2 separate regions of the Homo sapiens genome follow, and region 1 is linked to region 2. The links come from fine-mapping of genetic effects on gene expression. A gene starts in region 2. The other region holds a variant in brackets. All regions are shown on one strand. Distances are between the middles of the regions. Region 1 overlaps POLR3A (RNA polymerase III subunit A). Region 2 holds the start of RPS24 (ribosomal protein S24).

What was found. PIP is the estimated chance that this variant, and not a neighbour inherited with it, causes the effect.
Region 1: its variant is fine-mapped to the expression of RPS24 in whole blood (INTERVAL, PIP above 0.99).

The regions. Positions count from the first base shown.
Region 1 is chr10:78,002,372-78,007,371 of GRCh38, reverse strand. POLR3A (RNA polymerase III subunit A) reads left to right here. Exons shown (of 31, transcript NM_007055.4): 16 at 2,484-2,656. Among named protein-coding and RNA genes, the nearest start is that of POLR3A, 25 kb to the left of the region's middle. The variant G/A (reference allele first, on the strand shown) is at 1,920.
Region 2 is chr10:78,031,178-78,036,706 of GRCh38, reverse strand. It overlaps RPS24 (ribosomal protein S24), which reads right to left and starts at 2,844. Exons shown (of 6, transcript NM_033022.4): 1 at 2,803-2,844; 2 at 1,290-1,355; 3 at 987-1,196. The coding sequence starts at 2,805. RefSeq lists an enhancer at 2,515-3,044.

The DNA.
Region 1 (5,000 bases), 29 kb after region 2:
TCCATGATTCAGTTCTCCAAGATTACTCAATATTTGCCTACTATGCTTTCACTGTTCTATTTTGTTTGTTTGTTTGTTTGCTCATGCTTTGAGTGGGCCATGAGTCAAGTGATGTTTGCATGCCCCCAAAACTTTATTCCACTCTTATACTTGCCTGGGTATACAATTTTAGATTGAAAATTATTTTCCCTCAGAATTTTGAAGGTACTGCTCTACTTTCTTCTTGCTTTCAGAGTTGTTGTTAACAGGTATTGTCGTTCTTATTCCCCAGTTTTTGTATTTGATTTTTTTTTGTTTTTTGAAGATAGGGTCTTGCTCTGTCACCCAGGCTGTAGTGCAGTGGTGTGATCTTGGCTCACGCAGCCTCTCGAGCAGCTGGGACTACAGGCATGTGCCACCATGCCCAACTAAGTTTTGTAGAAATGAAGTCTCACCATGTTGCCCAGGTTGGTCTTGAACTCCTGGTCTCAAGTGATCCACCTGCCTCCACCTCCCAAAGTGCTAGGATTACAGGCATTAGCTACCATGCCTGGCCCTTGAATTGTTTTTTTCATTTTAGAAACTTTCAGAATCCTCTCTGTTCTCACTGTGAAAGTTCACAACAATATACCTTTGGTGTGGGTCTTTTTTCATTCACTGTGCTAAGCACTGAGTAATTTCATTTAATCTGCAGCTGTGTGTCCTTCCATTCGGGAAATTTTATGTTATTTCTTTAATAATTTTCTCTCTTTTACTTTCTCTGTTCTTTCTTTTTGGAACTTCAGTTAATTACATATTAGAACTCCTAGATTAATTATCTAATTATCTTCTTTTCCATTTGCCATTTCTTTATTCTAGATTCACTTTATCTTTTAATACTTCTGTTGATTTTTAAAATTTTATCACTGTCATGTATTTAATTTCCAATACTATTTTTCAATATACTTATTCACAGGTAGTGTTTTTGTTTCTTTTTTTTTTTTTTTTTTTTTTTTTTGAGACAGAGTCTTGCTCAGTCGCCAGGCTGGAGTGCAGTGATGCAATCTCAGCTCGCTGCAACCTCCGCCTCCCAGGCTCAAGTGATTCTCCTGCCACAGCCTCCCGAGTAACTGGGACTACAGGTGCCTGCCACCATGCCCGGCTAATTTTTGTGTTTTTAGTAGAGACGGGGTTTCACCATGTTGGCCAGGGTGGTCTCGAACTCCTGACCTCAAGTGATCTGCCCACCTCGGCCTCCCAAAGTGCTGGGATTACAGGCGTGAGCCACTATGCCCAGGCTGTTTTGTTTTTAAAGCTTTCTTGTTTTGATCCCTGAATGTATCTTCTCTGATCACTCTGAGAGAATATTATTCATAGTTTTATTATATTTGCTTCCTGAATTTTCTGTATCCTTTTACTTTCTTTTTCCTGTGCATTTGTGTCTTTTGTCTTTCATGTTAAAATCTTTCCTCAAATATCTGGTGGTCCTTGAGGAGTAAGGACTGAAACACTGATTGGAAATGGAGCTGACTGGTTGATGGACCTCTCAGTTTTTTTATATAAAAGGAATATACAGACTTTCCCTCAGTGCTCTTGTTTACAGTTATTTCATCTGCCTGGTATTCCCAGACCCAGAGCCTCTCTGATTCCATTTCGCTGGGAGCGAACTCCCATCTCCTACAGGAATAAGGGCCTGGAGCCTTCCTTATACAGACTTTCCACTAGGTTTCCTTGTTTCCAGCACATTCATCATTTCCAGCAGTTGCAGAACCTAATGATCTCATTTCTGAGCCTTTCCAGGCCCATTAGTCCTCTCATCTACAGATACTTGTAGGTCATACCTTCCTATCCTGCTAAGCCAGAAGCCACTCATTCACTCTCTTTATTTCTACATACAGTATATTGTGGCTAGGATCAATGGTGGCACCTAGTTCCATCAAAGTTGGAGAATACTTTTTTGT[G/A]TGTGTGACACAGGGTCTTGCTCTGTTGCCCAGGCTGGAGCGCAGTGATGTGATTATGGCTCATTGCAACCTCCACCTCCCAAGTAGCTGGGACTACTGGCATGTGCCACCATGCCCGGCTAATTTTTTAAGGTTTTTGTAGAGATGAGGCTGATCACAAACATCTGGGATCAAGCGAGCCTCCTGCCTCAGCCTTCCAAAGTGCTGGGATTATAGGCGTGAGCCACTGCACCCAGCCCTCAGGCCACCCTTTAGTGTTTAATGTCACTCTGCTTTAGATAATAGTTGGAAACGGTATTGTGTTTCCCCACCAGATCGTAAGGTCTCTGAGAGAAGTCAGTTGAGTCCTAGTCATTTTGTGTAACTCCCTAATGACTGAGAAAGAAAGCCATTATTTAATTGAATTGTGATGAATTCTGTGAAGATATACACTTTTTTATACTTTAAACTATACATACATAGTTTATATATAGTACAAACTATATCTAGCAGGCATAAACTGTATTTAGTAGGTTTGCTGAGTCTCATTTATGGCCCTTTCTTCCTGCTCTACCAACTCAACAGCTAACCGTGGTTTCTCAATTGGGATCGGTGATGTCACACCTGGCCAAGGACTGCTGAAGGCCAAGTATGAGTTGCTGAATGCCGGCTACAAGAAATGTGATGAGTACATCGAAGCCCTGAACACGGGCAAGCTGCAGCAGCAGCCTGGCTGCACTGCTGAGGAGACCCTGGAGGTGAGCCCGGCCCTTTGGTTCAGGGTCGCCACTTGCCGTGCACAGTGGCTACGGTGGTGCTCTCTGGGGTTGTGCTGAGCCATGAATAGAGGTAGCAAAGGAGTGGGCAAGTCAAGGCATTGGCGTCTGTCCTGTTGGGGCCCAGGGCTCACTGTGTATGTCCTCGTCTGTCCTGTTGGGGCCCTGGGCTCACTGTGTGTGTCCTTGTTTGTTTCCTGAGGGTAGGGCCTTTCATCAGATCCTCATGTCCCTCCTAACTTTCACATCCAGGTGGTGAAAACATAGCCATCTGTTCATTCGGCCACACGAGGCTGCTCTTGTTCTGGTGGCACACTCAGGTCCCTTCTGTAACTGGTACTCGAGTGCTCCTGCCTTTTCTATTTTCAGCATCCTTCAAGTAGAAACTGACACCACAGCTCTTTGGTTTTTGGGGGTTTGGTTTTTTTTGTTTTTGTTTTTGTTTGAGACGGAGTCTCGCTTTTCATAGTTTTATGAAGCACTCCAGCCAGGCTGGAGTGCAGTGGTACGATCTTGGCTCACTGCAACGTCTGACTCCCTGGTTCAAGCAATTCTCCTGCCTCACCCTCCCAAGTAGCTGGGATTACAGGCACATGCCACCATGACCAGCTAATTTTTGTATTTTTAGTAGAGACAGGGTTTCACCATGTTGGCCAGCACGGTCTCGATCTCCTGACCTCGTGATCTGCCCACCTTGGCCTCCCAAAGTACTGGGATTACAGGTGTAAGCCACTACGCCCAGCCAGTTTTTTTGTTGTTGTTTTGTTTTAAGATGGAGTCTCACTTTGTCGCCCAGGCTGGAGTGCAGTGGTGCAATCTCATCTCACTGCAACCTCTACCTCCTGGGTGCAAGCAATTATCCCTGCCTCAACATCCTAAGTAGCTGGGATTACAGGCGCCCACCACCATGCCCAGCTAATTTTTTTTTTGCATTTTTAGTAGAGGCGGGGTTTTGCCATGTTGGCCAGCCTGGTCTCGAACTCCTGACCTCAGGTGATCCACCCACCTCGGCTTCCCAAAGTGCTGGAATTACAGGCATGAGCCACCGTGCCCAGCCTCACCACAGCTCTTTGAATGTATGGTCTTTGAAAGAGACTTGGATGCGGAAGAGGGAGAATTCATGTCTAATAGTCACATCCCCAGCCTGCTGCCCCTCATTTGAAACTATTTTAGCTAAGATCTCAACCAGCATGGGTCAGAATCAGAATCACCACCAGCCTGTGAGAACCTGAAACTCCCTCAGCAGTCTGAGTGCACCAGGCTTTCACCTGGCCGTCTTCTGCCTCACCGATAAACCCGTGGCACTGAGCTTTGACTCACCTGAGTGTGGAAGAAAGGCTCTTTAAGCATTGGGAAGTTTTCTAATGAAATACATTTTCTAAAGCAGGGAGAAACCAGAATTTTGTGAGGTATTTACCATTAGCTCATTCTTAATCTTACTGAGTCTTAGAGAGAGAGAAAAGGATATCCCTCACCGGTACCTCCTAGAAAATTACTTGAGACCTCGGCAGCAGCAATTTTTCATGGAACCAGACTTGTAACTGATTCAGCATCCTAGTTTGTAAGTTGAGGAGTAACTGTGGATGAGCTCATGAGCCGGAATATTCTTGTGAAGTCACCTCATCACATGCCTAGCTTGCAGACATTCAGATGTGTGCTTGGCAAGAAAAAGTAGAAAGACAAATTTACAAATAGTACAGGCAATTCTCTTTTACATACCACATATTATCTTATATATTTGTATGGGGTGCATGTGTGTGTCCACACAGCTATTTATATACAGATATTTTGTTGTGTAGGGTAGTATACACAAAGCCATACATTCTACCTTATGGGCCATTTAAAGGATTCTTCAAGTTTTTATTACTGTCAATTTTAGGCCAGGCTTGGTGGCTTATGCCTATAATCAAGGCAGGAAGATCCCTTGAGGCCAGGAGTTCAAGTCCAACCTGGGCAGTATAGCAAGACCCCATCTCTACAAAAAAAATTTTAAAAATTAGCCAGGCCTGGTAGGGACATATACCTGTAGTCCTAGCTACTCAGGGGTCTGGGGCAGGAGGATCACTTGAGCCCGGGAGTTTGAGGCTGCAGTGAGCTGTGATTATGCCATTGTACACCAACCTCAGCAACAGAGTGAGATCCTGTCTCCAACAAAAACAAAAAAAAGATAAACTGTTTGCCTTATACACCAATTTTAGAACCTTGTAGAAGATGTACATGTTCATATAGCCAGGGCATTTTGCTCCTCTAAGGTTCTGAAACATTTACTGATCGGAAATCGGGCATCTTGCCTCAGTATTTTCAAATTTCTTTAAATGTTAGATTG
Region 2 (5,529 bases):
ACAAAGACTACTTCCAAATCTTTACAAGGATCTCAGCTTCAATGTCACCACCTCAGCAAGGCCTTTAACATGACCGAACGTCAGTTAAAAATAGTGCAGCCTCAGCTGGGCACGGTGGCTCACACCTGTAATCCCAACATTTTGGGAGGCCGAGGTGGGCGGATTACGAGGTCAGGAGTTCAAGACCAGGCTGACCAACATGGTGAAACCCAGTCTCTACTAAAAATACAAAAATTACCCAGGCATGATGGTGCGCACCTGTAATCCCAGCTACTCAGGAAGCTCAGGCAGAAGAGTTGCGTGAACCTGGCAGGCGGAGGTTGCAGTGAGCCAAGGAGATTGTACCACTGCACTCCAGCCTGGGCGACAGAGCTAAACTCTCTCTCTAAAAAAAAAAGTGCAGCCTCTACCTATGACATCACCAGGATTTTCCCTCACAGCTATCGTATGGGAAGGTTTATCTAACAGGATAGGATAAAGTGAGTTAAAGGAACAAACAAAACAAGCACTTCGAGGTGATGATGCTTACTTGTTTACTAGAATGTAAGCTGGGGAGCTTGCCCAGATCACTGCTGTAGTTCACTCTGCAGTGTTTGACACTCAGTATACAATCAAAAACTTTTCCTGGTTCCTGACTACCTATGGGTTTAAGCCCAGATGCAGACTTAATCCAAACTAAGTGAATTTGGTGCCAGGCTACCTTTCCAAACACATCCCCTTACTTCTCCTCTGGAAAACAATCCTTACCCCTAGCCCATCTCCAAGAACACTACTTCAGCTGCCCTTCTGAACTCAGCTCAAATGTCAGACTTCAATTTTGAACCCCCGTACTCCACCTGTGCATTTTATGAAATAACTTTTTCTCTTAATCCTTTCAGAGTTGTATCCCAGATTGCTTGGTCTTGCCCTTTTTACCACACTCACAACACAACGCTATTGAAAAAATAGGTCTTCAGGAGCTGATCAACAAATGAAAAGACACCTACTCTTGCAAGTCTATGTTTGGGTTCATTTTTCTTTGCATAATCCAGGGAATCATAAATCATGCCAAAGCCAGTTGTCTTGCCACCACCAAAATGAGTTCTGAATCCAAATACAAAGATGACATCCGGTGTGGTCTTGTACATTTTGGCTAGTTTTTCCCGAATTTCTGTCTTAGGCACTGTCGCCTTCCCGGGGTGAAGGACATCAATGACCTAAAAGGAGATATCAAGTTTAGCATTCAGTATGATAAAATACATCTTTAGAGTAAAGGACAATTAAGCAAAGATTGATGTGCCCTTCCTTACCATTTGTTTCCTCTGAAGTAGTCGGTTGGTCATGAACTTTCTAGTGCGGATAGTTACGGTGTCGTTCTGAAAACATAAACACTCTGGTTAATAAAACTACTCCAACTTTTCTTGGCCTTGCTGTGATTTTCCAAGACCTAGAATGTTGCAGTCCAATTTGTAGCCATTAGTCATGTAGCGAACTAAAGTAAATAAAACCCACTGGGCAAGGCCAAACTCACAGGATACACCTAAGGAATACATAAAATACCAGGAAAACACAATGGTTTTACACATGAATCTGTACAACTTACTTCACTAGGTTATGTGTATCTCTGGGGCAGGGTTTCTCAACCTCAGCACTACTGATATTTCCATATGGATAATTCCATATGGATATGTTGTGGGGACTGTATGTTTTAGAATAACTATAAAAATCCCAGCCCTCTAACCACTAGATGCCGGAAGCACTTCCCACCTTTCCCAGTTGTGACAATCAAAAATGTCTCCAGACTTAGCCAACTGTTCCCTTAGGAGAAAAATCACTCCGGGTTGAGAATCACTTCTCTGGGGTAAAAACTGCTGTGGCTCATATAAAGGTCACTCAATGAACTGTGTTTATCATGTCTTGCACAAATGTGCCCCAAACCTTGTACTCACTACCTACATGTAATCTATCCTTCTAGAATGGCCATAGCAGAGATCAGAGAAAACGATATTCCCTTCTGAAGGACTGAACTGCACCTTTACTTAATACCTAACAAAAAATGTGGGCATTAAGCAATTTATGCTAACAATTTTACCAAAAAGGAGGCGCAAGAGACTTTCATGGCAGCAAATAACTTCCTAGACTTTCTCCATTTTACTTTGAGAAACCACACCAAATTAAATCCACGTCAGTGGTACTCAATTCTTGAAAGTAACGGATCAAAGGTAAGGAGAAAAAAAAAAGATTGCTGGTAAAGTTAAAAACGGATGCTGGAGGAGCTAATAACGCATGACTTAGGGCAGGACTACCTTTTTATAACATCTCTTTCCAGGGCCTGTTTCCCCACTATGAAACATGAAGATCCATCCAGCTGACAAGTTTTCTAGCTTACACGTGGGAATGGTTTCACTTGCCGCAACTCGCCCAGGCGCTGCCCGCACCTTCTTCACCTCTTGTACTGCCATCACCTGCAAGCCGCCTACCTAGCCCAATGAGGAACTGCAGACGAGATGTGCCTCCCAGTGTCCATCTATCCCGCCCGCCCCCTACCCCCATCCACCGTGCTCCACGAAGTCAACAAGCGCAACAGCTCCTGCACTGCCCAGGCGCTGGAGCCCGAAGCCCAGCGTGTCCGGGTCTACAGCGCAGCCCGCCAGCCCGGACGCCCTGCCAACAGCCCCGAGCCCCTCGACAACCATCCTCTGACAGAAACGGCCAGAGAAGAGCAACCGGGCTTCGCGTGCCTATAGCTCAAGTACTGGGACCCAGGGACCACGGATGGCTCGGATACGCGGCAGATGACTGCACGGGCCCAGGGAGACTCACCATGATGGCGATCTATCTTCAGACAGCCAAGGAGGAAAAGAGAACCACGATTCGCCGGCCAATCATATCAACGCGCACGGAAGGACCCCGGGAAGAGCCGGCGTGGGGGCGTGGGCGCGCCACGAGGCTGACCGCGCCGATGCCTGATTTAGGCTGCCTACGGCCCCGCCTCACAGACTTTTGGCCACACCCCTGGAACTCTAGACTGACCAATCCAGAACCAGAACAACTCGAGCCGACTAGGTTTACGCAAGCAGGTGTTCAATTTCAGTTCAATTCATTATGTTGAATTGTACGTATTTGAATTCCGGTAAACCAAATTAGTTTAAATTGCCTTCTTCCGAGTTAGAGGTGGGTAAACTTGGAAAGCATTTTAGGATATCCTCTCTAACAGTCTCCTCGTTATATGGCTAGGGAAACTGCAGAAACCCTGACTCTAAAACCTTTGTTATTTCAAGTACTTAACATTGCCCATTCTAATTTATTATTCATGAGTATTATTTCTGTGACTTTTATGACGAATCTTTACTTTAAAAGATCTCTTTAATTTGTATTTTTCTGCAAATCTTGGTCATTATGCAAAATTAGATTTTGAAAAATATTTGGCCGGGCGCGATGGCCACGCCTGTAATCCCAGCACTTTGGGAGGGCAAGGCGGGCGGATCACCTGAGGTCAGGAGTTCGATACCAGCCTGGCCAACATGGCGAAACCACGTATCTACGAAAATAAATAAATAAATAAATACAAAATACAAAATTAGCGGGGCGTGGTGGCTCATGCCTGTAATCCCAGCTACTCGGGAGGCTGAGGCAGGAGAATCGCCAGAACCCGGGAAGCAAAGGTTGCAGTGGGCCGAGATCACACCATTGCACTCCAGCCTGGGCAACAGGAGCGAAAATCCGTCTCAGAAAAAAAAAAAAAAGAAAAGAAAAAAAAGGAAAAAAAAATTGGAAGCCAGGGGCAGTGGCTCACGCCTATAATCCCAACACTTTGGGAGGCCGAAGCAGGTAGATGACCTGAGGTCAGAAGTTCGATACCAGCCTGGGCAAAATGGCGAAACCCCGTCTCTACTACAAAAAAAAAAAAATTGGCCGGGCGTGGTGGTGCATGCCTCTAATCCCAGCTATCTGGGAGGCTGAGACAGGAGAATCGCTTGAACCCGGGAGGCGGAGGTTGCAGTGGGCCGAGATCGCACCATTGCACTCCGCCTGGGCAATAAGAGCGAAACTCCGTCTCAGAAAAAAAAAAAAAAAAAGGAAAAAAAAATTGATTGCTCCAGAAATATTTTCTTTAACGTGAAACAGACATGTAAAGAATGTAAATATATATGTTCCGGAGAAATAATAAGAAGAATTTCCCAAATGTTAGTGCAGACGAGGTGTCCAAGGTGCAGGCTTTGCGGGCAGCTTTCCTATTTTCTTTTTTTTTTTTTCCTGAGACAGAGTCTAGCTCTTGTCACCCAGGTTGGAGAGCAATGGCTTCATCGCGGCTCACTGCAACCTCGACCTCCCGGATTCAAGCGATTCTCCTGGCTCAGCTTCCAGAGTAACTAAAATTACAGGCCTGCGCCACAATGCCCAGCTAATTTTTGTATTTTTAGGAGAGACGGGGTTTCACCATGTTGGCCAGGCTGGTCTCCAACTCCTGACCGCAAGTGATCCGCCCCCGCCTCGGCCTCTCAAAGTGCTGGGATTATAGGCGTGAGCCACCGTCCCCGGCCGACTATTTTTCTTTTTTTTCGTTTTTTGTTTTTTTTTTTTTTTTTGAGACCGCATCTCGCTCTGTCACCCAGGCTGGAGTGCAGTGGCGGGATCTCGGGTCACTGCAACATCCGCCTCCCAAGTTCAAGCGATTCTTCTGCCTCAGCCTCCCGAGGTGACCAACTATCCTTATTCTTAAGAAAATAGTCAGCCGGCTGGGCACGGTGGCTCATGCCTGTAATCCCAGCACTCTGGAAGGCCGAGGCAGGCAGATCACGAGGTCAGGAGTTCAAGACCAGCCTAGCCAATATGGTGAAACCCCGTCTCTACTAAAAATACAAAAATTAGCCAGGCATGGTGGTGCGCACCTGTAGTCCCAGCTACTCGGGAGGCTGAGGCAGAAGAATATTTATTGAGTGATTGTAATGTGCCTGTTACATTCTAATTACTTTTACCTTCATTTTGCTATTTAACCTTCCCATTGACTCTAAGAAATAGGATACATATTACTCACCCATGTTATAAATGGGGAAACTAACACACAATAAGATTAAATAACTTTCCCAAGTTCACACTTTATATACGTGTATATATACACGTATGTGTATATATACACATATATCTATATCTATATCTATATATATATATATATATATTTTTTTTTTTTTTTTTTTTGAGGCAGAGTCTTGCTCTGTTGCCCAGGCTGGAGTGCAGTGGCACAATCTTGGCTCACTGCAACCTCCGCCTCCCGGATTTAAGCGATTCTCCTGCCTTAGCCTCCTGAGTTGCTGGAATTACAGGAATGCGCCACCACACCAGGCTAATTTTTGTATTTTTTAGTAGAGACGGAGTTTCACCATATTGGTCAGGCTGGTCTCAAATTCCTGACCTCATGATCTGCCCACCTCGGCCTCCCAAAGTGCTGAGATTACAGGCGTGAGCCACCGCGCCCGGCCTGCACAACTTTATTTTTTATTTTTTTTTATTTTTGAGATGGAGTTTCACTCTTGTCGCCCAGGCTGCAGT